7 linked regions of the Homo sapiens genome follow. The protein of the gene in region 1 interacts with the protein of each later gene in a pairwise test. Each region holds a gene or a part of one and is shown in the gene's direction. Other genes may lie near its edges. The genes, in order: QRICH1, SMAP1, CRX, POGZ, MEOX1, KLHDC7B and MYH7B.

Region 1 (3,500 bases):
CACAGGCAGAAAAGTGCAGCATCAATTCACATTGAAGTCTGTGATCTCAAAACCTGAGCCTTTTTTTTTTTTGAGACGGAGTCTCGTTCTGTCACCCAGGCTGGAGTGCAGTGGCGCGATCTTGGCTCACTGCAAACTCCGCCTCCCAGGTTCACGCCATTCTCCTGTCTCAGCCTCCCGAGTAGCTGGGACTACAGGCACCCGTCACCACGCCTGGCTAATTATTTTAATAGAAATGGGGTTTCACCATGTTAGCCAGGATGGTCTTGATCTCCTGACCTCATGATCCGCCTGCCTCGGCCTCCCAAAGTGCTGGGATTACAGGTGTGAGCCACAGCGCCCGGCCTTTTTTTAAAAAATATACTTAGTAACAGCTTTATTGAGATATAAGTTACCCATTTGAAATGTATAATTCAGGCACACTGGCTCACACATGTAATCCCAGCACTTTGGGAGGCCAAGGCAGGTGGATCACTTGAGGTTAAGAGTTTGAGACCAGCCTGGCTAACATGGTGAAACCCTGTCTGTGCTAAAAATGCAAAATTTAGCTGGGCATGGTGATGCGTGCCTGTAATCCTAGCTACTCAGGAGGCTGAGGCAGGAGAATTGTTTGAACCAGGGAGGCGGAGGTTGCAGTAAGCTGAGATTCCACCACTGGGCAACAGGGCAAGACTTTACCTCCCAAAAAAAAAAAAAAAAGCGACTACACCAATTTTTTCTTGTTTTTTTTTTTTTCTGAGATGGAGTCTCACTCTGTCCTTGACTGGGCTGGGTATAGTGGCGCCATCTCGGCTCACTAGCTTCCACCTCCCAGGTTCAGGCAATTTTGCTGCGTCAGCCTTCCGAGTAGCTGGGATTACAAGCATGTGTAACCACGCCCAGCTAATTTTTGTATTTTTAGTAGAGACAGGGTTTCACCATGTTGGCCAGGCTGGTCTGGAACTCCTGACCTTGTGTCCACTGGCCTCAGCCTCCCAAAGTGCTGGGATTACAGGTGTGAGCCACCGCATCTGGCCAACTACACCAATTTAACATGCCCACCAGCAGTTTCAAGTTGTCTATATCCTTACCTATACTTGTTATCTGTCTTTTTTAGATATAACTTATTAGATATAAAGTGGTTTCTCATTGTGGCTTTGATTGGAATTTCCTTCACAGCTAGTATGATATGGAGCAACTTTTTATGTGGTTCTTGGCCATTTGCATATATTCTTTTTTTTGGGAGATAGTTTCACTCTTGTTGCCCATGCTGTGGTGCAGTGGTGCAATCTCGGCTCACTGCAACCCCCACCTCCTGGGTTTAGTAGTTCACCTGCCTCAACCTCCCAAGTAGCTGGGATTACAGGCATGCACCACCATGCCTGGCTAGTTTTGTATTTTTAGTAGAGACGGGGTTTCACCATGTCGGTCAGGCTGGTCTCAAACTCCTGACCTCAGGTGATCCACCCACCTTGGCCTCCCACAGAGCTGGGATTACAGGCATGAGCAACTGTGCCTGGCCTCATTTTCTGCCTTCTTGTTTTCTACCTTTCTAATTCCTACTTGTGGTTAGGGTAATTTATCTATGTGTCTGATGGTAAAAGCTGTTTTTTAAAAGTTGCATACTATGTATTTTTTTCTTTTCATGCTCTTTTGCATGCTGACATAATAATAAGACAGTAACTGTATTGTTATCAGAAACATGTCATCCAGGTTATGGTAATATTGCTCAGATTAAATTATTGGGATTCTGTTTATTTAAATGCCTTTCCCATTAAACATATGTTAAGTAAGCACTCTAAAGCAGTGGTCCCCAACGTTTTTTGCACCAGGGACTCGTTTTGTGGAAGACAGTTTTCCACAGACATTGATGGGGGTGGTGCTTTGGGATGAAACTGTTTCACCTCACATCATTAGGTGTTAGATTTTTTTTTTTTTTTTTTTTTTTTTTTTTTTTTAAGATGGAGGCTCACTCTGTCACCCAGGCTGTGATGCAGTGGTGCTCTCTCTGCTCACTTCAACTTCCGCCTCCTGGGTTCAAGCTATTCTGCCTCAGCCTCTCAGGTAATTGGGATTACAGGCATGCACCACCATGCCTGGATAATTTTTTATATTTTTAGTAGAAGTAGAGGTGGGGTTTCACCATGTTGGCCAGGCTGGTCTTGAACTCCTGGCCTCAAGTGATCTGCCCTCCTCAGCCTCCCAAAGTACTGGGATTACAGGTGTGAGCCAATGCACCTGGCCAGGCATTAGATTCTAATAAGGAGCATGCAGCCTAGATACCTCACATTTGCAGTTCACGATAGGGTTTGTGCTCCTACAAGAGTCTAATGCCACCATTGATCTGACAGGAGGTGGAGCTCAGGTGGTAATGCTCACCTCTGTGCTGTGTCGTTCGCCTACGGACCAGTACTAGTCCTTGGCCCCAGGGTTGGGGACTTCTGCCCAAAAAATCAGGCTGGGGGCTGGGTATGGTGGCTCACGCCTATAATCCCAGCACTTTGGGAGGCCAAGGCTGGTGGATCACCTGAGGTCAGGAGTTTTGGACCAGCCTGGCCAACATGGTGAAACCCCGTCTCTACTAAAAATACAAAAATTAGGGCTGGGTGTGGTGGCTCACACCTGTAATCCCAGCACTTTGGGAGGCCAAGGCAGGCAGATCACGAGGTCAGGAGATCAAGACCATCCTGGCTAACACGGTGAAACCCTGTCTCTAATAACAATACAAAAAATTAGCCAGTCGTGGTGGCGGGTGCCTGTGGTCCCAGCTACTTGGGAGGCTGAGGCAGGAGAATGGCATGAACCTGGGAGGCGGAGCTTGCAGTGAGCTGAGATCACACCACTGCACTCCAGCCTGGGCGACAGAGCGAGACTTGGTCTCAAAAACATATATATGTATATATAAATTAGGTCTGGGCGTGGTGGCTCACGCCTGTAATCCCAGCACTTTGGGAGGCCGAGGTGGGCGGATCATGAGGTCAGGAGATCAAGACCATCCTGGCTAACACGGTGAAACCCTGTCTCTACTAAAAATAAAAAAATCAGCCGGGCGTGGTGGCACGCACCTGTAGTCCCAGCTACTCGGGAGGCTGACACAGGAGAATCGCTTGAACCGGGGAAGTGGAGGTTGTAGTGAGCCGAGATCGCACCACTGCACTCTAGCCTGGGCGATAGAGCGAGACTCCGTCTCAAAAAAAAAAAAAAAAAGTTAGCTGGATGTGATGGCAGGCACATGTAATCCCAGCTACTTGGGAGGCTAAGGCAGGAGAATAGCTTGAATCCGGGATGCAGAGGTTACGGTGAGCCGTGACTACCATATCACTCCAGCCTGGGGAACGAGCGAAACTCCATCTCAGAAAATAAATAAATAAGGCTAGGCATGGTGGCTCAAGCCTGTAATCCCAGCACTTTGGGAGGCCAAGGTGAGCGGATCACAAGGTCAAGAGATCGAGACCATCCTGGCCAACCAACATGGTGAAACCTCGTCTCTACTAAAAATACAGAAATTAGCTGGGGGTGGT
Region 2 (3,500 bases), on another chromosome or scaffold:
GTGTGTGTGTGTGTGTGTGTGTGTGTGTGTGTAGAAATTTAAATTAGCATTTAAATAAAAAGCTTAGCAGTCATCAGGTACTGCAATGTTATATTTTTTGGCTATATATTACAGTATAGCTGAAACTCTTCAAGATGGGGGGGGCACTGTTCATTTTACCAAGAATGTACCTTGTTCTTTACCCTGTCCAGACTTTACCTGCTGTGTAACTTGAGGTCTTTTTTTGTTTTTTGTTTTTTTTTAAAGACAGCGTCTCCCTCTGTCACCCAGGCTGGAGTGAATTGGCAGGGTCTCGGCTCACTGCAACCTCTGCCTTCCAGGGTTCAAGCGATTCTCACACCTCAGCCTCCTGAGTAGCTGGGACTACAGGCACGTACCAACACGCCCAGCTAATTTTTGTGTTTTTAGTAGAGATGGAGTTTGGCCATGTTGGCCAGGCTGGTCTTGAATTCCTGGCCTTAAGTTATCTGCCCACCTAAGTCTCCCAAAGTGCTGGGATTACAGGCGTGAGCCACTGCGCCCAACCCACATAATAATCACATCAAATGCCACTGTCTCTACAAAGCCTCCATTAATATTGTTGGCTGACATTAATTTTTACCTCTTCTATGTTCCTGTGTCATTTGTACTTATTACTATAACCATTATATGATTATTAGAGTTCAAGCTCCTTGAAGGCAGGATTTGTGTTTTGTCATCTTCGTTTAATACTTCGGTCAAAATAAACACATAATAGATAACTGGTGATTTAAATTGGATCTAGAAAACTCAGGTTTGATGAAAAAGTCTTTTATTATTCTTTAACCCGTCTTAGAATTTGGGCTCTAAAATCAGGGATTGCTAAATCTATTGTGTGTTCTGTTTGCTGTTACCAACATTCAAATGTAATTCACACTGACCGTGTGCAGTGTGGCTCATACCTGTAATCCCAGCAGTTTGAGAGGCTGAGGCAAGTGGAATGCTTGAGCCCAGAAGTTTGAGACCAGCCTGGACACCATGGTGAAACCCTGTCTCTACAAAAAATACAAAAATTAGCTGGGCGTGGTGGTATGTGCCTGTAGTTCTAGCTACTTGTGAGGCTGAGGTGGGAGGATCACTTGAGCCTGGGAGGCAGAGATTTCAGTGAGCCAAGATCTTCACCACTGCACTCCAGCCTGGGCAATAGAGTGAGACCCTGTCTCAAAGAAAAAAAAAAGTGGCTTAAACAGGGTAGAAGTTTATTTCTCCTTCACATTGGTCTGGACATGAACTGTCCAGTATGGGTAGAGTAGTTCTGTCATCTTCACCATGGGGCTTTTGTAATTGGATCCAAGGTTGCAGGTTCATTCCTTATTGTCTCCTAGCAAATGGAAAAGGGGAAGAGGCCAGGGGAACACAGGCCCAGTGTGGTTAATGGCAAAATATATCATTTCTGTTTACATTCTACAGGAGAGGCTGAGAAATGTAGTCTTCCTATCAGGACAGCCACATTTCTAGGTAAAATTCAGAAGCCTTTATTACTTAAAGGAAGAATGGGAAAATTGATATTAAAGATAGTGATTTTTGCCATAATTTTCAGATTTATTTCCATTTTTAAAAATAGTAGATCAGTTGTTCAGGAATCAAAACATTTGAGTATTTGACTGAGTCATCAGATCTAGCAGATTTTTAAAATTATACAGTCGATTCCCTTACTGTAGGTGATACAGAAGGTTATATAAGAGCCTTCCTAGTGAGAACTTTACCATCTACTTTAGGAGACAGAACTAATTACAAATGAAAAAAGAGTAGATGCCTATTGTGGCACATTCTGTGTCACATGCTGTTATGAGTGTAGACATTTACAGGAGATAAATATTTCCTATAATCTAATATAGAGGAAAACAGGAAACTGTTAAAGGTTTGGAGTTGGAAACTGAAATGGTGCGAGAGTGTAAACTGGTAATGGAATTCAGATTGGGTGAATTATCTTTCTCCCTCTTCTTCTGATAATGAATTCAGAGTGGATGAGCTCCCTCCCTTTTGCTCTGCCTAATCTCTGAGGTTACCTAATACTTTTCAGCCTCAGTTACCACATCCAGATGTTCTTTCTTAGCCCAATTACTCTTGACTTCTTTGGAATATTTGATACTATTGAACATCTTTTTTTTTTCCCTGTTTTTGAAAACAGCTTTTCTTTGAAACGACCTCATTCTCTACTTTTACTGCCTTTCATTTTCTCCCTAAGATTTAGTACTGTGCTTTTTTGCTCTTTTTGTTCTTGATACTGCAACTCTCATCTTAAAAGAAGGTGTGAGGCTGGGCGTGATGGCTCATGCCTGTAATCCCAGCACTTTGGGAGGCCGAGGCGGGCGGATCACGAGGTCAGGAGATCAAGACCATCCTGGCTAACATGGTGAAACCCCGTCTCTACTAAAAATACAAAAAATTAGCTGGGCGAAGTGGCGGGCGCCTGTAGTCCCAGCTACTCAGGAGGCTGAGGCAGGAGAATGGCATGAACCTGGGAGGTGGAGCTTGCAGTGAGCCGAGATCACGCCACTGCACTCCAGCCTGGGCAACAGAGCGAGACTCCGTCTCAAAAAAAAAAAAAAAGAAGGTTGTGTGTGTGTGTGTGTGTGTGTGTGTGTGTGTGTATGTGTGTATGTATCCAGTTTGAACTTTAGTCCTATATTCTAAATCGCCTGCCAGACATTTTCATCTTGGTGTATCACTATCATTTAAAGCATTCAATGGATCTCCTGCAGTTTTCTGACTCCACGAGGACCCTCATGCTTTATATCCTAGGTGCAGAACTTGCATTTTGGCCTCTACCTTCTCCTTTGCCACTGTATTTTCTATGAGTAAGCCCTGTCAGTTCTTCCTGGTGATTTCATATTTGTTCGTTTCCATTCTTACTGCTGCCACATTTATCAGTCCCTTAATTACGTTAGTTATGTGAAAGCAAATCAGGAAGTGTGTTGAATGCTTGAGTTAAAGATTGTGGAGAATGCTCTAGAACCTTGCTCTTCAAAATGTCATCTGTGGATGGCAGCATGGGCATCACTGGGAACTTGTTAGAATGCAGAACCTTAGGAGCTACTCTGGGGGTCACAGAATTAAGAGTCTTCATTTTCATGATATTTCCAGTTGATGTGCATGCACATTAGGGTTTGAGAGACACTGATCTAGAATTCACTGTGCATTTCTGCTTCCCTTCTCTCTCCCTTCTCCCCCTGACCCTCCTTTTTTTTCTGACTAGAGTGCGGTGGTACCACCATAGCTCAAAGGACCTTTGAACTCCTGGGCTCAAGCTATCCTTCTGCCTCAGCCTCCCAAGTAGTTAGACCTGCAGGCACTCACCACTACGTGTGGTGTGTAGTTTTCAATTTTTATTAGAGACCACTGTGGTTTCACTATGTTACCCAGGCTGGTCTCAAAACTCCTGGCCTCAAGTTATCCTCTCACCTTGGCTTCCCAAGTGCAGGGATTATAGGTGTGAGCCACTGTTTCTGGCCCACTGCATATCTGTTTAACCTTTCTTA
Region 3 (3,500 bases), on another chromosome or scaffold:
TGCAATGGCGCGATCTTGGCTCTTTGCAACTTTTGCCTCCCAGGTTCAAGTGATTCTCCTGCCTCAGCCTCCCAAGTAGCTGGGATTACAGGCGCACACCACCATGCCCGGCCAATTTTTGTAAAGCCTTATTTTTAAGAGAAGTGAGTACTCAGTTATTTGTAGCATTATTCTTTAGCTCTTGTTTTTTTTTTTTTTTTTTTCAAGACCGAGCCTTGTTCTGTTACCAGGCTGGAGTGCAGTGGCATAATCTTGGCTCACTGCAACCTCTGCCTTCTGGGTTCAAGCGATTCTCCTCCCTCAGCCTCCCGAGTAGCTGGGACTACAGGCATGCACCACCACACCTGGCTAATTTTTTGTATTTTTAGTAGAGACAGGGGTTCCCCATGTTGGCCAGGATAGTCTCAATTTCTTGACCTTGTGATCTGCCTGCCTCAGCCTCCCAAAGTGCTGGGATTATAGGCGTGAGCCACCGCACCCAGCCCAGACTTGCTACTTTTATAGGCTAGAAACGGTTGAATGTCAGCAATGTCATGCTTCAACTGATTATGTCTTAGTGCATAAGAAAGTTTAGAAGAGGGAAAAACGACTCGCACACCTCCTTGTTGAGCTAAAGCCTTGGGGTCAGGCATGAGCCACAGAGTGCCAGGCACACAGTGAGGTGTAGAAGGGCAGGGAATGTGTATTCCATCCTTAGTTTAGGCAGATGGCAACCAGGATGGAATTCTTGGCATCCCACCCAGCCTCAGGGCCTCACACCAGCCCATGTGGATGACCTGAGGGTCCTGTTTCCCATCCCACCCCAGGCGCCCCCAGGAAGCAGCGGCGGGAGCGCACCACCTTCACCCGGAGCCAACTGGAGGAGCTGGAGGCACTGTTTGCCAAGACCCAGTACCCAGACGTCTATGCCCGTGAGGAGGTGGCTCTGAAGATCAATCTGCCTGAGTCCAGGGTTCAGGTGGGGTGGTGGGTCCCTGGACCCCTCCCGACACTTCCTGTGATCTCAGGAGGCCTGCCCGGAACAAAGAGTGATGGGAGGAGGGAGAGATCACAGAGTGACAGCCAAAGTTATAAAGGGGACAATAATCCCTCTCCCCACCATCCCACTGACCGCCTCATGGCTCTCATTGCCCCTCGCTCCTCTCCAGCTGCGCTGGCCCTGACCTGCCTGCCAAGCACCCTCCTGCCTTGGGCCTTTGCACTCAGTTTCCTCTATCTGGAATGCTTATTTCCAGATAACCACACAGCAGGCCCCATCGCCTTGTTCGAGTCTTTGCTTATCCATCAGTGAGACCCACACTGAACACAGCATTTAAAATTGCATATGATTTACATATGGTATCTCAGAGTCTGTTTATTTAGACTCTGTCTCTCCCAACTAGAATGTCAATTCCACTGACGGACACTCAGAGTAGTAGAAAATGGTTAATACATGTTTATTAACTGACTGAATAGACGGATGGATGGATGGGTGGGTGGATGCATAGATGAATGTATGTATGTGTGACTGTAGGTGTGCGTGTGCATGTATGACTGGAAGCATGGATGAGTGTATGTATGTGTATATATGAGTGTCTGTGTGTATGATGGGATGGATACATGTATATATGTGTGTTTGCATGAACGCACATAGGTATGATTAGATAGATGATGAATGTATGCATGCATGATATATGTATACGTGGTGTATGTGCACATGTATGTATACATGCTTGCATGATTGGATGGATGGGTATATTTATTTATTTGAAATGGAGTCTCGCTCTGTCGCCCAGGCTGGAGTGCAGTGGCATGATCTTGGCTCACTGCAACCTCCGCCTCCTGGGTTCAAGTGATTCTCCTGCCTCAGCCTCCTGTGTAGCTGGGATTACAGGCGTGTGCCACCACACCGGGCTAATTTTTGTATTTTTAGTAGAGATGGGGTTTCACCATGTTGGCCAGGCTGGTCTCAAACTCCTGACCTCAGGCAATCCTACTGCCTCGGCCTTCCAGAGCGCTGGGATTACAGGCGTGAGCCACCGCGCCCGGCCGGATGGGTGTATTTATGTATATATGAGTGTATGCATGTATATATGATTGGACTGATAAATAAAATGTGTGTGTTAGTATGATTGTATATAGGTATGACTGGATGGATTAATGTATATGTATGCATGATGTATGTGTGTATGATGTATGGGTGTATAATTGTATATTTGTATGTTTGTATAATCAGATGGATGGATGAACATGCATATGATGTATGTATGATTAGATAGATCCATTAATGCATGTATGATGTATGTGTGTATGACCTATGTTTATATAATTATATGTATAAGATGGATGAATCTATGTATGATGTATGTGTGTACAATTGTATGTATCATCAGATGGATAAGTCTATGTATGATGTATGTATGATCAGATGGACTGGTGAATGTGTGTATGACATATATATGTGTGAGGTATGTATATATGATCAGATGGATGTCTACATAATGTATGTGTGTATGGTGTATGTATGTATAATTGTATGCGTGTATGTTTGTATGCTGTAGGTATGATGTTACATATATGTGCATACACACGTGTGTATGATTGGAAGGATAAATGAAATATGTATGTTTGTGTGATTGTATGCACATATGATTAGATAGATTAGTGTGTAGCTATGTATGCTGTATGTGTGTACAATGTATGTGCCTATAATTGTATGTTTGTATGTCTGTATGATCAGATGGATGAATATGTATATGATGTATGTATGATCAGATAGCTGGATAAATGTATGCATGATGCATGTGTGTATGGTGTATGCATGTATAATTGTATGTATGTTTGCATTAGATGGATAAATGCCTGTAGGTATCATGTATGTACGCATACATGCATGATTGGATGACTGGATGGGTTTATTTGTGTATATATGAGTGTACGCATGTATATATAATTAGATGGATAAATGAAATGTGTGTCTGCATGATTGTATGTATGGATTAATGTGTATATATGTATGATGTATGTGTGTACAATGTATGTATGTATAATTGTATGTTTGTATGATCAGATGGATGGATGAATGTGTATGATGTATATATGTATGATCAGATGGCTCCATTAATGCATGTATGATGTATGCGTGTATGATGCATGTACACTTGCATGTATGATCAGATGAGCCAGTGAATGTATGTATGATGTATATGTGTATGATGTATGTATGTATGATCAGATAGATGGGTAAACGTATGCATGATGTATGTGCGTATGGTGTATGTATGTATAATTGTATGTGTGCATGTTTGTATTAGATGGGTGGATGAATATGTGTATGATGTATGTATGATCATATAGATGGGTAAATGCAGGCATGATGTATGTGTGTATGGTGTATGTATGTATAATTGTATGTGTGCATGTTTGTATTAGATGGATGGATGAAAATGTGTATGATGTACGTATGATCATATAGATGGGTAAATGTATGCATGATATATGTGCGTATGGTGTATATATGT
Region 4 (3,500 bases), on another chromosome or scaffold:
AATCTTTCCAGTAAAGGCAGGGAGAATGTGTTATAGGTGAGCTCACTGACCAAGATCTGGTACTTTGTCTCTCTTTTAAAGCCCCAGGTACCCAGTTTGTTAAGCCGACAGTTGGAGTTCCACAAGTGTTCTCCCAGATGACCCCTGTGAGGCCAGGCTCCACAATGCCTGTGAGGCCCACCACCAACACCTTCACCACCGTCATCCCGGCCACTCTTACCATTCGAAGCACCGTCCCACAGTCCCAGTCCCAGCAGACCAAGTCCACTCCCAGCACTTCTACCACTCCCACTGCCACACAGCCAACCTCACTGGGGCAACTAGCTGTTCAGTCTCCAGGCCAGTCAAACCAGACCACGAATCCCAAGCTAGGTAAGGCTTCGGAAGAGGAGATGGCAGAGCCAGGTTGGGATGGTGGGTGGAGAACAGATGATTATCACTTGGTCACCGTAGCTCCCTCCTTCCCCTCTCCACCTGCAGTGAGCATTGCCAGCTTTGTCACTGTGAAGCGACCTGGTGTTACAGGCGAAAATAGCAATGAAGTGGCCAAATTGGTGAATACCCTTAACACCATCCCTTCCCTGGGCCAGAGTCCTGGGCCAGTGGTGGTGTCCAACAACAGCTCTGCTCATGGCTCTCAAAGAACCAGCGGACCTGAGTCTTCAATGAAAGGTACAATAACCTGAAAGACTCTGAGCAGCCAGTCATTCAAAAACATTAATAAAGTGTTTGTTGTATCAGAGCTTTATACTCAGAAATAGAAAAATAAAATAAAATACAGCTGCTGTAGTTTGTTCTTACAGAAACTTTAGTAAGGAGAAAGCCACTTACAAAAAGTGTAACTGAATCAGCTCCAAGAAATTATGTGTGTAATTGTGCTTTGGAGATTAGTGAAATTGATTGATTAAAGATGGGTGAGATAATGAAAGATAACTTCATGGAAGAGATGGATTTCTGAGCAAGGTTTTAAAGTTAGGATTTGGTAGAGAGATCTTCAGGTTGAGAATGATGAGCATGAGGGTTTTCAGTGGTCTAGAGCAGGGGTCGGCAAATGTTTTCTGTAAAGGGCCTAGTAGTAAAGTTGTAGGCTTTGTGCACAATATATAGCCTCTGTTGCAGCTATTAACTGTGCTGTTGTGGTGGGGAAGCAGCCACAGATACATAAACGAATGAGCATGGCTGTGCTCCACTAAAAACTATTTATGGACTCTGAAATTTAAGTTTCATAAAATTTTCATGTGTCGAAAAGTTTTATTCTTTTATTTCAACCATTTAAAAATAAAAACCGCAAGGTATAGTGGCTCACACCTCATCCCAGCATTATGGGAGGCCAAGACGGGAGGATCACTTGAGCCTAGGAGTTTGAGACCAGCCTGGGCAACATGGTGAGATCCCATCTCTACAAAAAAAAAAAAAAAAAAGATTAGCCAGGCGTGGTGGTGTATGTCTGCAGTCCTCGCTACTCAGAAGTCTGAGGTGAGAGGATGGCTTGGGCTTGAACCCAGAAGGTTGAGCCTGCAGTGAGCCATGAGCATGCCACTGCAACAGAACGACACCCTGTCTCAAAAAAAGTAAAAACCTTTAAAACATGGTGTTGGGAAAACTAGATATCCATGTCCAAAAGAAGTTGGATCTTACCTTACAATAAATACAAAAATTAACTCAAAATGGATCAAAGACCTAAATGAACTAAAACTATAAGACTCTTAGAAAAATTATAGGACAAAAAGCTTCATGATACTGGATTTGACAGTGATTACTATTTCTTGGATATGACACCAAAAGCATACGCAAGAAAAGAAAAAATGAGTAAATTAAATTATATCAAAATTTAAAACTTTTGTGCAGGACGTTGTCAACACAGTGAAAAGGGAAGCCACAGAATGGGAGAAAATATTTGCAAATTATGTATCTAATAAGGGGTTAATATCCAGAATATATAAAGAATTTGTGCAGTTCAACAACAAAAAAACTCCCAAACAACCTTTTTAAAAAATAGACAAAGGACTCGCTGGTCGTGGTGGTTCATGCCTGTAATCCCAGCACTTTGAGAGGCCAAGGCAGGTGGATCACGAGGTCAGGAGTCCAAGACCAGCCTGACCAATAATGGTGAAACCCCGTCTATACTAAAAATACAAAAATTAGCCAGGCGTGGTGGTGTGTGCCTGTATTCCCAGCTGCTCGGGAGGCTGAGACACAAGAATTGCTTGAACCTGGAAGGCAGAGGTTGTGGTGAGTCGAGATTGTGCCACTGCACTCCAGTCTGGGCAACAGAGAAAGACCCCATCTCAAAAAAAAAAAAAAAAGTAGGAAAGTAGGCAAAGGACTGAATAGACCTTTCTCCAAAGAAAGTTATTGCCAATAAGCTCATGAAAAGGTGCTCAGTGTTATTAATCATTATGGAAATGCAAATCAAAACCACAATGAGGTACCGTCTCACTCCCATTAGGATGGCTACTATCAAAGAACCATAAAATAACAAATATTGTTGAGGATGTGGAGAAAGCAGAACCCTTACGCACTGTTGGTGGAAATGTAAAATTATGCAGCCACTTTGGAAACAGTATGGTGGTTCCTCAAAAAGTTAAAAATGATAGAATTGTTGTATGCTCCAGGAATTCCATTCTATACCCAAAAGAATTGAAAGCAGGGACTAGAACAGGTATTTGTACACCTATGTTCATTGCAACATTATTCACAATAGCTGAAAGGTGAAAGCAACACAGAGGTCCATCAACTGATAAAGGGATAAATAAAATGTGGTATTCACATACAATGGTATATTGTTCAGGCTTAAGAAAGGAAATTCTGCTACAACATGTGCTGCAACATGGTTGAACCTTGAGGACATTATGTTAAAGTGAAATAGGCTAGTCACAAAAGGACAAGTACCATATGATTCCACTTACTTGAGGTACCTAGAGTAGTCAAATTCATAGAGACAAAGTTGAATTGTGGTTGCCGGGGTGGAGGCGAGGGGAGAATGGTGAGGAGGTTTTTATTGGATATAGCTTCAGTTCTGCAAGATTAAAAAAAACAAAAACCTTAACAAAAAAATCACATACAAATTATTCTTAGCTTATGGGCCAAACAGAAACTGGTAGCTGGGCTGGATTTGATCTGTGTGCTGTGGTTTGCTGACCCCTGGCCTAGAGTTAGAACAGTAAAAGGAAGCCTCAAACATAGTGATCTTGAGCCCAGGGAGGTCAAGGCTGCAGTGAGCTGTGGTCGTGCCACTGCACTCCAGCCTGGGCAACAGACTGAGAGACCGTGTCTCAAAAAAAACAAAAACAAACAAAAACCATAGTGATCTCTCATGCTTGCTTACCCTTTTATATACTTCTCAGGGAGTGTTTGACTTTTTCCCAAAAGGTCAGTAATCTTTTTCCAGTGTCATTGTATTAATCTTATCAATTCTTCTCACTTCTTTCAGTGACCTCTTCCATCCCAGTATTTGACCTCCAGGATGGTGGACGGAAAATATGTCCACGATGTAATGC
Region 5 (3,500 bases), on another chromosome or scaffold:
AAGGGTCCCCTCAGGAGCACCAGCAGCAGATGAGGCAGGGCCCAGTGAGCTGACTCTCACTCATCCCCCTGTGATTCCAGACAAACTCACTGTTCAGCATGGAAATCTTTATTGCCGCAATGCTTGCATCCTCCTTTGGAATTTAACTGAAGGGGAGGAAGGAGGCAAGAAAGATCAGCTTTGTAAGAGCCCAAAGAAGGGGGAAAGTGACGCAAGGCTCATGACCTACTCCAGGAATCTGGAATTCAGCTCAGAAAAGGCAAACCCACAGAGAGCCCCCCACCCAACCCTGCCAATCCTGAGTCTATAATTGGATCCCCTCTCCAAAATTGTGATATTTTGTTCATTATCAATTTTTTGCATTACTTTTGATTTTTACAAATATTGCCTTAAAATATTCTTTTTTTTTTTTTTTTGAGATGGAGTCTCACTCTAACGCCCATGCTGGAGTGCAGTGGCATAGTTTCAATTCACTGCAACCTCTGCCCCTTGGGTTCAAGCAATTCTCCTGTCTCAGCCTCCTGAGTAGCTGGGATTATAGGCGCACGCCCCCTCTCCCGGCTAATTTTTGTATTTTTAGTAGAGTCGGGGTTTTACCATGTTGGTCAGGATGGTCTCAAACTCCTGACCTCGTGATCAGCCCACCTCGGCCTCCCAAAGTGCTGGCATGCGCCACCGTGCCCGGCCTTCCTTAAAATATTATTGATCTTGACTACAGAGGGGTTGGGCATGCCCTTGCATTTGGGCCTCCCCAAGTCCAGGCTGAGTGGTCCCTGGAAGGTTAACCAGCATTGATCAGAAACGCGTTTTCCATAGTTCTTCCCAGCCAGACAGACAGGCTGCAGTGTCAGCACGGCAACTTTTGGCTGCATGACTTTGGAAAAGTTCATAACTTCTTCCAGCCTTTGTTTCCCTGGCTGTAAAATGGGCATATAGCAGTAGCCCCTTCCATAGAGAGTCTCTCTGTGAAGGTTAGATGCAGTGATCCATGAGATTAACTCTGTGCCTGGCACATAGTAAGAGTTCAATAAATAGCAGCTGTAAATGGTATTAGGCCCATATTTCCTGAACCAGCCTTCAGAATATAAGGTCTGACAAATATTTCTATATTTATGGGGATGGTGGAATTGAATATTTCAATTATGCTGTCTCAGAAATTCCTGAGTCTAGAGAACTTCTGGCAATCATTTTGTTCCAGTTGTCATCAGGAGCATGGAGCTCAGAGACCTGCCGGAGAGGTTATGGGGTGAGTTGGGCCTGGCAAATGCACCCCATATTGAGTGGCTGAGAAGCCTCCAGAAATGGAAAGTTTATTGTAAGAGGAATGTTCTCTGCGCTTCCTTCCTCCTTTGCCATCTCCTTCAACTGCTCCCCGCTCACTCCCAGTAGAATCTGGAGCTGATCTACTCAAAGAAATTATCAAGAAAGCAAGGGTTGGCCGGGCGCGGTGGCTCATGCCTATAATCCCAGCACTTTGGGAGGCTGAGCCAGGCGGATCACCTGAGGCCAGGAGTTCAAGACTGACCTGGCCAACATGGTGAAACCCTATCTCTACTAAAAATACAAAAAAAAAAAAAAAAAATTAGCCAGGTGTGGTGGCAGGCACCTGTAAATCCCAGCTACTTGGGAAGCTGAGGCAGGAGAATAGCTTGAACTTGGGAGGTGGAGATTGCAGTGAGCAGAGATCACGCCACTGCACTTCATTCAGCCTGGGTGACAGAGCGGGACTACATCAAAAAAAAAAAAAAAAAAGAAAGAAAGAAAGAAAGAGAGAGAGAAAGGAAGAAAGGAAGGAAGGAAGGAGACAGAGAGAAAAAGAGAGAAAGAAAAAGAAAGAAAGAAAAGAAAGAAAGAAGGAAGGAAGGAAAGAAAGAAAGAAAGAAAGAAAGAAAGAAAGAAAGAAAGAAAGAGAAAGAAAGAAAGAAAAAGAAAGAAAGAAAATGAACAAACGGGGAGAAAGAAAGAAAGCAGGGTTCCTGGCCTTTGGCACTTCCCCACCCTGGAGACCAGCATGGTGTTATCTTACCCAAACCACTCCCAGCCCCAGGCCAATGGGGATTAAAGACCCCTGCTGGCAGGGACAGCTGTGAGGCCACTGTTGTTTTCCCCCAAACTGTCCTTGCTACTGTGGTTGTCTTTAATTTATGGGAATGAAGGATTTTGCGGTGGTTTCCTCATGGGGTTCAAGGGAAGGTTGCGTGTGATTAGAGTGGCTACAGGTGAATCCGATCGCCCGCCTGGGAAAGCCATGGTGCTAGAACTCAGCACTGCTCCCTCCTGCTCTCACGTCCTCACTCTGCTGAGACATGCCTTTAATCAGACGTGATTTGTCTCATCCTTCTTCAGCTCCAACACGTGTGTTCCCAGAGCTGTCCTGCCCCAATTTCTCTTTGCAAGACCTGCTCTATGCCTGCCTCCGCCCAACCACAAATTTGCCTAAGGTATAAAACTCCACAAATAGGCCTCTCTCCTCTTTTCCCTCCTGATGCCCCTTTACAGGCCACCTCCCCGCCCCAGGTCCCCTCCACTACCCCTGCCACGAAGCCACACCCAGGGACTGACCTTGCAAACACATCCTGCATTTTCTTCCCCCTCTCTGACTGTGCTCTGGTGGTTTCTCCTTGCCTAGAGCACTCTCCCCTTCCCCGTACTTCTGCCTGTTGAAGTCCTACTTAAAAACCACCCAGCTCAAAAACAACCCCTTCCAAGAATATTTTTGTTCTTCTTTTTCAAAAATTTATAGCTACATTTGCATATAACATAGTATCAAAGAAAGCTACAGTTAAGAAATGTCGAAGTCTAGTATCTGCTAGAATCTGTGTTGATTTTCTCACTTTAGCTTGCAGTTGTTTCATAAAGGAACTCTTCTGAGGTTTCTTACCTGGGACATCTTATATTTGAAATCTCCTTTTTTAAAAATTGGGGTCAAATACACATAACATAAAAGTTACCGTCTTAACAGTTTTTAAGTGATACAGTACAGTAGTTGTGCAATCGATTTCTAGAACTTTTAATCTTGCAAAACCGAAACTCTATCTCCATTAAACAACGACCTTTTTTCCCTTCCCCCACCCCCTAGCAATCACCATTCTTTCTCTTGCTAAACATTTGACTATTTTAGATACCTTACATAAGTGAAATCATGCAATGTTTGTCATTTTTGTGACTGGCTTATGTCACTTGGCATAATGTCCTCAAGTTTCAACCAGGTTGTAGCAAGTGACAGGATTTTCTTCTTTTTTTTTTTTTTTTTTTTTTTTTTAGAAAGACAGGGTCTTGCTATGCTGCCGAGGCAGGTGTTGAACTCAGGGCTTCTAGCAGTCCTCCCACCTTGGCCTCCCAAAGTGCTGGAATTATAGGTGTGAGCCACCATGCCTGGCCTCCTTCTTTCTGAAGACAATAACATTCCATTGTATGGATATACCAAATTTCTTTCTTCTTTTTTTTTTTTTTGAGACGGAGTCTCACTCTGTTGCCAGGCTGGAGTGCAGTGGCGCGAT
Region 6 (4,025 bases), on another chromosome or scaffold:
GGCACGGTCTAGAAAGCCTTCCCTCAACTTGAGGTCCACCTTAAGGCATGGGGCCCACCCTCACCCTCTCCCTGTCATCTAATAGTCCCAGGGGGAGCTGGGAGGTGAGTTACCTGAGGCTCAGTAGGGTTCAGGCTGGGTGCCAGGGACACTCCTAGGCCATCTCCTTGCTGCTTGAGTAAGGGAGAAATCCCCAGGCCTGCTGTGTCCCAGAGGAAGGAAAAATACACACGGTACTTTCCAGGGAGCCCTGCCTTTGTCCCAGGGACTCCAGGCTCTTTTTCTTGTCTGAGCCTCACCTGGCACCTGGCCCGAGACACTCCTGAGATGGGATTAAGCAAGGAGCAGGTGGAGGAGCCCAGGCTTCTCCCTCAGGAAGCAAGTGCTCACATCCAACAGAAGTACCTACATGCCGGCCTGAGCCAGGGCTAGGAGGTACCAGCCAGGATGTGGTCTCGAGGGCGAGTCCTCAGCTCAGATAAGGGAAGGCTGAGGACTGAGATGAAGACACCCAGAGTCTGGCTATTAGAGCACCTGGGGCCAGAGGGGGGTGGTTTCTAAGGGATCCAGGTGCTGGCTGATGCGGTAACTGGAGTAGGGGGCAGGCTGGGCTCAGGGTTCTCCAGGGGCACAGTGAGAGTCTCATCTGGGCAGTCAAGACACTCTCGATGGGCGCAGGGGGTCCAGGAGATCCTAGAAGGTCTAGGTGGGCTGAAATAAGCCTGGCCATAAAGAGAGAAATATGTTTGGATTTTATTTATCCCATTAATTTTTTTTTTCTCTTGACTTGATAACCCTATCCCATGTCTGGTAAACCCAGAGTAAGGAGTCCAAAAGCTGCTGGAGGAGGAGCTATGGGAGCCTCAGTCTCCTCTCTATGCCCCCTCCCTGTGCCCCAGTACAAACCTCCACAGCACCCCTGCAATGATAATGCTCACTGCCAGGACCCGTGTCCAGGGTCTCCCTCTTCAGCCTGAGAGACCACCGTCAGGCACAGCCTGCACCCTCCCGTGCACGGCCCCCACCCCTCCCCTGCTGGCCCACAGTGGAATCAGCCTCTCCGGTTTCTGGTGATTTCATCAGGGCCACATCACATTGCTAGAGCTAGAGATAACATCTCCCTGTGGGTAACCCTTCCCTGCCAAGCCCCCTGAAGCTGGGCCCAGGCTGAGAGGAGGGACTGTGGGGTGTGGAATAAATTTAGGGGTGTGAGGGTCTACCAGGCAGAAGCAGGTTGGCTGTGATGACAGCACAGAGCTCAGGAACGCTGCCTGAGGACCCTGGGGCCTACGAGGAGGAGAAGAGGGCAGGAGCTGGTGGGGTGCTTGCAGAGACCCTGGGCTCCTATCCTGCCATAAGCCTCGCTGTCTCCTGATATCTGCAGCCAGGCCCTACTGACACCCCCAGGCCTGAGTGCAAGCAGAGACCCCACCATTCCCAGGCCCTGGAGGACTGGTCCACCTTAACTGGGCAGCCCTTGGGGCAGGCGCTGGCCGGTGCCTCAGCCCAGGCCTCTGTGCTCTGCATGCACTGCCAGCCTGCCATCAGGCCTCTATTGCAGCCCTGAACCATGATCCAGGGCACCTTGGAGCCAGATGGTCCCCTCTGGGGCTGGGACTGGGACAGTGACAATGACTGGGATAGTGCTGTGCTGGCCCTCCTGGCGCTGGCTGTGGTGGCTGCCACAGCGCTGGCCTTACACTGGTTTGGCTCCGGGCACGATCAAGAGGCGGCAGAACCGGTGTCCACAGCCCTCGGGGCTCAACCTCATCAGGCAGGAGGAGCTGAGCTGGCCCTGCAACCGAAGTCTAAGGTCAGTGATGGCAGCGAGGGGCAGAGCCCAGGGCAGGGGAAACCAGAGCCCCCAGGACGCGGCCAGCAGAGCCCTGTCCCTGCTGCAGCGCCGGGCGGGGGCCTGGCCGCCATGGCCCGGCTTCCACTCAAGACGGCTGTCGAGGAGGCCCGCAGAGAGGCATTAGGACAGCAACGGGGCAGTGCCACCCCCGCGGCCCCCCGAGCGGAAGGAAAGGAGCCTCCCAGGCCAGGCACTGCCCTCCTGGGCAGGAGCGAAGCAGGGGGGATGTCCGCCCCCCTCCTGATCCACTTCACTCCTCGGAGCCCTGGCAGCGAAGCGGAGGCGGAGACAGGTGGTGTCAGGGCGTCCTCTCGCCAGGCCGCAGGCCCCGCGGGGCAACAGGACACTGGCCCCTGGCAGGCGGGCGCGGGGCCCTCGGGCTCGATGGGGAGAGGCCGGGGCCGGCGGCGGCGGATGGACGCTGGCTCGGGAGACAGAGCCCGCCGCCCCCGGAAACTGGACCCGCTCCGCCTGGGCGCCGCGGGGAGCGTGTGGGACGCGGTGGACGGGGCCGCCGCCCTGGACGCCCACGCGCGCGGCCTCCCCACAGGACCCCCACTCGCCCAGGAGCCCGCACTCCCGGCGCTGCCCGCTCCCCGCGCCCTGCAGCCTGGGTCTCAGACGGAAGGCTCTGGGGCCAAGGGTGGCTGGAGCAGGGAGGCCTCGGGGGTCCCTGCCCCCGGAGGAGGCTGGCCCTGGGTCAGCAGGGAGGTCCCGGGCACCCGGAGCTTTGGCCCAGCCCCAGACTCCACGCGCCCCTGGCTAGAGAGTCCGCCTCAAGGTCGCCCACTCTCGTCCCAAGGGCCGGGTGCCACAGGGGCCTACGATGCCGGCGAGGCCGGGGCTGACAGCTCCCGAGATAACAGTCCTGCCGCTGACCTGGGGCCCACCCGGCCCCCGGAGCAAGCAAAGCCGGCTGCAGCCGGCCACAGCCGCGCGCCCTCCCGGAGCCGTGAGCCTCGCCCGCGCTCCGCCTCCCCGCCCGCAGCTCCCGGCCCGGGGTTCCCACCTGAAGCCCTGACTCTCCCCTCTCCTTCAGACTTTTTGCCCCTGGAGGTTACCCAGGATCCTTCCGTGGGCGAAAATCTCAGAGCGGCGCCAGCCCCAAGTTCAGCCTCAGCCCAAGTCTTAACTTCAGCTCCAGCCTCAGTCCTAGCCCCAGCCCTGGCTTCATCCCCCAGCTCAGCACCAACCTCAGCCACCACCTCAACCTCATCCCCCACCTCAGCCCCAGCCCCAGCTCCAACCTCAGCTCCAACTTCAACCCCAGCCCCAGCCCCAAGTCCAGCTGCAGCCGCAACTCCAGCCCCAGCCCCAGTCCCAGTCCCAACCCTCACACCCCCATCCCCAGCCCTAACCCCAGTCCCAACCCCAGCCCTAAGCCCAGCTCCAACTCCAGCCCTAACCCCAGCCGCATCCCCAGCCCTAACCCCAGTCCCAACCCCAGCCCTAAGCCCAGCTCCAACTCCAGCCCCAACCCCAGCCGCATCCCCTGCCCCAGCCCCCACCTCAGCCCCAACCCCAACCCCAGCCGCATCCCCTGCCCCAGCTGACGGGTCAAAGCCTCAGGAGAGTGTGGCTCTCCCCAGGCGCTACCAGGAGGGGCAGGTCTCAGCCAGCTGGGGAAACCTTATTGCCATGGTTCTTAGAAGCCACCCCTTCCCCAGGCAAGACAGGCCCCAAGGGAGTGTCCCGAGGGCGGTTCCCGGGAGCCCCGTGGGTCCCAGCACTTCCACACACTCTGAGGACAGACACGGCCCCTCTTCTTCAGTGGGGACAGTCATAGGGACAGGTACAGGGGGCCTGGTTGAGGCTGGAGGTCAGCCACAGCCAAGAAGCTCCGAGACCAACGGATCGCCCAGCCCAGACCCTCCCCCAGGCCTAAGAGGAGAGGGAACCAGGGAGAAAAGTCTAGACCCGCTGCCCCAAGCCGCGATGCCCAGGGGCCCCGCACAGCCCCCCGCGCAGAGGCCGCCTGGCCCCGCGGCCTCCTCCTCTGCGAGGCGCTCACAGCCGGTACCCCAGCTACGGAAACGCAGCAGGTGCGAAATCGCCCCGAGCTCGGAGCAGGAGGTCAGGCCGGCCGCCTCGGGGGACCCTCAAGGGGAGGCGCCGGGGGAGGGGGGCAGCCCTGCCGGCCGCAGCGGGGCGCTCACGGAAAAGCAGGAGG
Region 7 (3,500 bases), on another chromosome or scaffold:
GTTTTCCAAAGTGGCAGCAATTGTATCAGAGCTCCAATTTTTACATCCTCACCAATACAGTTATCCCTCTGTATCTGTGGGGAATTGGTTCCAGGACCTCCCATGGATACCAACATCCAAGGATACTTAAGTCCCTTATATAAAATGATGCAGTGTTTCATATATGCTTAAGTCCCTTATATAAAATGGTGTAGTGTTTCATATAAACTATATGCATCCTCTCATATGCTCTTTAATTTTGTTTTATTTTATTTTAAATTTAAATTTATTTTTATTTATTTTGAGACAAGGTCTCACTCTGTCAGGCTGGAGAGCAGTGGTGCGATCATAGCTCACTGCAGCCTTGAACTCCTCGGTTCAAGGGATCCTCCTGTCTCAGCTTCCCAAGTAGCTGAGACTACAAGCGAGAGCCACCACACTGTCCTTTCCATGTACTTTAAGTCATCTCGGCCGGGTGCAGTGGCTCACGCCTGTCATCCCAGAACCTCAGGAGACCAAGGCTGGCAGATCACCTGAGGTCAGGAGTTCGAGACCAGCCTGGCCAACATGGCGAAAACCCATCTCTACTAAAAATACAAAAATTAGCTGGGCGTGGTGGCGCACACCTGTAGTCCCAGCTATTCAGGGAGGCTGAGGCAGAGAATCGCTTGAACCCCAGAGGCAGAGGTTACAGTGAGCTGAGATCGCGACACTGCACTCCAGCCTGGGTGACAGAGCGAGACTCCGTCTCAAAAAAAGAAGTCATAAATGCTATATAAATTGTTATACTGTATTGTTTAGGGAATAATGACAAGGAAAAAAGTCTGTACATGCTCAGTACAGTTGAAACATTGTTTTCAAATATTTTCAAGCTGCAGTTGGTTGAATACACAGATGTGGAACCCATGGATATGGAGGTCCCACTGTACTTGTCTGATTGTGGCCATCCTGGTTGGTCATTGTGGTTTTGATTTGCATTTTCCTAATGACAAATAATGCGCATATCTTTTCATGTGCTTATTGGTAGTTTGTATATCTTCTTTGGAGAAGGGTCTATTTAAATGTTTTCCTTATTTGTAAGTTATTTGTCCTTTTATTATTGGGTTGTAGGAATTCTTTATATATTCAGGATAGTAGATCCTTCCTTATATGTGATTTGCCAATAATTTGTCCCATTCTGTGGATGGTCTTTTCTGTTTTTCGATAGTATCTTTTGAAGCACATATTTTAAAATTTTGACGAAGTCCAATTTATTTATTTTTTCCTTTGCTTGTGCTTTGAATGTCATATCTACGAAACCATTGCCTAATTCGAAGGTCACAAAGATTTACACTTACTTTTTCTAAGAGTTTTATAGTTTTGGCTCTTAAATTTAAGTCTTTGATTCATTTTGAGTTAATTTTTATATAGGATGTGAGGTAGGTCTTATGCATTTTTACCCTCCTATTAGGTGTATTTCTAAGCAATATATGACACTTTTTCATGGTATTTGCACTTTTAAGTGGTAAATTATATGATTCTTGTGCAGCTTGCTTTTCTCTTTCAGTGTTATATCAGGAGATTTATCCATGTTTTAAGGGGAAATAGTTCATTCATTTTCACTGCTCTATAGGTTTCATTGCATAAAAATACCAAAGTGGCAGCAATTGTATGAGAGTTTTGTTTATTCTCCTGTGAATGGTCACTTGGGTTCTCTAGTATTTTATTACTATATATGGTAAAAAGACTAATAGATGCCTCCTGTGCAGTGTGTTGAAGGTCGTGAGCATATTCAGACTTACAAGGTAATACAAAGTTTCTTTCCCAAATGGTTTTGCAAATGTGCACTCCTGCCAGCAGTGTATTAGAATTGCCCTCATTCTGCATCCTCACCGAGACAGAATGGTCAAGGTTTCTAGCTTTTGTCAGTCTAGTGATGTGAAACGGTGTCTCGTTGTGATTTTCCAGATTAATAGCAAGATTTGTTTTTCAGTAAGTGTTTACATGGTTGGATGGATGAATGCATGAAAGCAGAAGGGGCCCAGAATAACCCTTTACTCTGCCTGTTGTTGGAGGATGGCAGGGCTCTGGGCCTAGACTATGTGGCTCTCTGTAGGGACACCGTGGAGCTAGAGAATGTTGGGGGCAGGCTGACAACTCTAGATGTGGGAGAGGACGGTTGTCACCTTGAAACTAGTGATGGGAGCTTCTCTCTACCCAGGGAGAGGCTATCGTCCTGCTCTTCCATCTCCTTGAATTTTCCAAGAAGGGAGGGAGTGGAGAAAGAGTGAAGCCAAAAGAGAATTCCTGGGACTGGGCGCGGTGGCTCACGCCTGTAATCCCAGTACTTTGGGAGGCCAAGACAGGAGGATCACTTGAGACCAGGAGATAGAGACCAGCCTGGGCAACATAGTGAGATCCCACCTCTACAAAAAATTTTTGTAAAATTAAAAAACAAGGGAATTGCCTAAGGATGAGAGGTCACAGTGGCCTAAGTGACCCTTAGGAATGACCCTTTTTCTGGGACTTTTTCATGATCTTTATATTGGTGTGACATGAACTTTCCTTGTTTAATCTACTGAGTTTGGAGATGGTCTTAATGATAATAAGAAAATGAATAGTAATGATTATATGTTGAACTCTTATGTGCCAGGCACTTACGCCTTTTCTTTTTAAAAATAGGTATTATCTCATTCAATTCCTATGGGACAGGTACTATTAGTATTCCCATTTTATTTTATTTTTAAAATAGGGATGAGTCTCACTGTGTTGTCTAGGCTAGTCTCAAACTCCTGGCCTCAAGTGACCCTCTTGCCTTGGCCTCCCAAAGTACTGGGATTACAGGCATGAGCCACCGCACCTGGCTCATTCCTGTTTTATAGATGAGGAATCAGAAGATCAAAGAGACAGAGCAACTCTGAGGGTTTGCACATAGGCAGTTGGACTCCAGAACTCTTAGGCATCATGCTGTGTGGTTAACCTGGCTCAGCCGAATCCACTAGAGCAAAGAAAAGAGAGGCTTGCCCAGGCTTGGGTGAGAAACAGGAGTCAGAATATTCACTGGGCCTGGCCTGAGGGCGCAGCAGGGAGCAGAGCGAGAGGCCGCTGGGAAAGATGGTTCTCAAAAGCAGAAGCCTCACGCCAGGGGACATGGCCCATCAGCAAGCACATGGGTGCCTCTTCTGGGCATGCTGGCTGCTGGGGACCCAGAATGGGATCTGTCTGCTCCTGGGTCTCAAGAAAGACCTGTCTTGTGGGGTAGACAGATGATAATAAGCAGACTTACCCATAAGTGTAATACACTCAGAAATGGGGACATGTGATACAGAGGGTGAAGAGAGAACCTTTATAGAAAGGACCTAGTTTAGTTAATGTAGTCAAAGGAAGCCCCTTTGAGGAGGTGACATTTGAGTGGAGGCTCGAGAAGAAGGAAGCAGCCATGCCCCAGTTTGGGGAAAGAGTAAATGGCAGATGCAGAGTCCCTGAGACAGAAAGGAGCTGGTTTAGTTGTAAACTCTCAGAAGGCCACTGTATCTGGAGTG

The links.
Region 2: the proteins of QRICH1 (region 1) and SMAP1 interact in binary tests that used the Homo sapiens proteins (3 or more experiments, as listed by UniProt).
Region 3: the proteins of QRICH1 (region 1) and CRX interact in binary tests that used the Homo sapiens proteins (3 or more experiments, as listed by UniProt).
Region 4: the proteins of QRICH1 (region 1) and POGZ interact in binary tests that used the Homo sapiens proteins (3 or more experiments, as listed by UniProt).
Region 5: the proteins of QRICH1 (region 1) and MEOX1 interact in binary tests that used the Homo sapiens proteins (3 or more experiments, as listed by UniProt).
Region 6: the proteins of QRICH1 (region 1) and KLHDC7B interact in binary tests that used the Homo sapiens proteins (3 or more experiments, as listed by UniProt).
Region 7: the proteins of QRICH1 (region 1) and MYH7B interact in binary tests that used the Homo sapiens proteins (3 or more experiments, as listed by UniProt).

Annotation. Positions count from the first base shown.
Region 1 is NC_000003.12:49,059,572-49,063,071, reverse strand, and holds part of QRICH1 (transcriptional regulator QRICH1), read left to right. Parts: intron 1-3,500. UniProt on the Homo sapiens protein: Transcriptional regulator that acts as a mediator of the integrated stress response (ISR) through transcriptional control of protein homeostasis under conditions of ER stress.
Region 2 is NC_000006.12:70,726,883-70,730,382, forward strand, and holds part of SMAP1 (stromal membrane-associated protein 1), read left to right. Parts: intron 1-3,500. UniProt on the Homo sapiens protein: GTPase activating protein that acts on ARF6. Plays a role in clathrin-dependent endocytosis. May play a role in erythropoiesis.
Region 3 is NC_000019.10:47,835,437-47,838,936, forward strand, and holds part of CRX (cone-rod homeobox protein), read left to right. Parts: intron 1-806; coding exon 807-958; intron 959-3,500. UniProt on the Homo sapiens protein: Transcription factor that binds and transactivates the sequence 5'-TAATC[CA]-3' which is found upstream of several photoreceptor-specific genes, including the opsin genes.
Region 4 is NC_000001.11:151,424,995-151,428,494, reverse strand, and holds part of POGZ (pogo transposable element with ZNF domain), read left to right. Parts: intron 1-81; coding exon 82-372; intron 373-453; coding exon 454-672; intron 673-3,433; coding exon 3,434-3,500. UniProt on the Homo sapiens protein: Plays a role in mitotic cell cycle progression and is involved in kinetochore assembly and mitotic sister chromatid cohesion.
Region 5 is NC_000017.11:43,655,423-43,658,922, reverse strand, and holds part of MEOX1 (homeobox protein MOX-1), read left to right. Parts: intron 1-3,500. UniProt on the Homo sapiens protein: Mesodermal transcription factor that plays a key role in somitogenesis and is specifically required for sclerotome development. Required for maintenance of the sclerotome polarity and formation of the cranio-cervical joints.
Region 6 is NC_000022.11:50,544,674-50,548,698, forward strand, and holds the start of KLHDC7B (kelch domain-containing protein 7B), read left to right. Parts: upstream 1-1,225; 5' UTR 1,226-1,570; coding exon 1,571-4,025.
Region 7 is NC_000020.11:34,962,368-34,965,867, forward strand, and holds part of MYH7B (myosin-7B), read left to right. Parts: intron 1-3,500.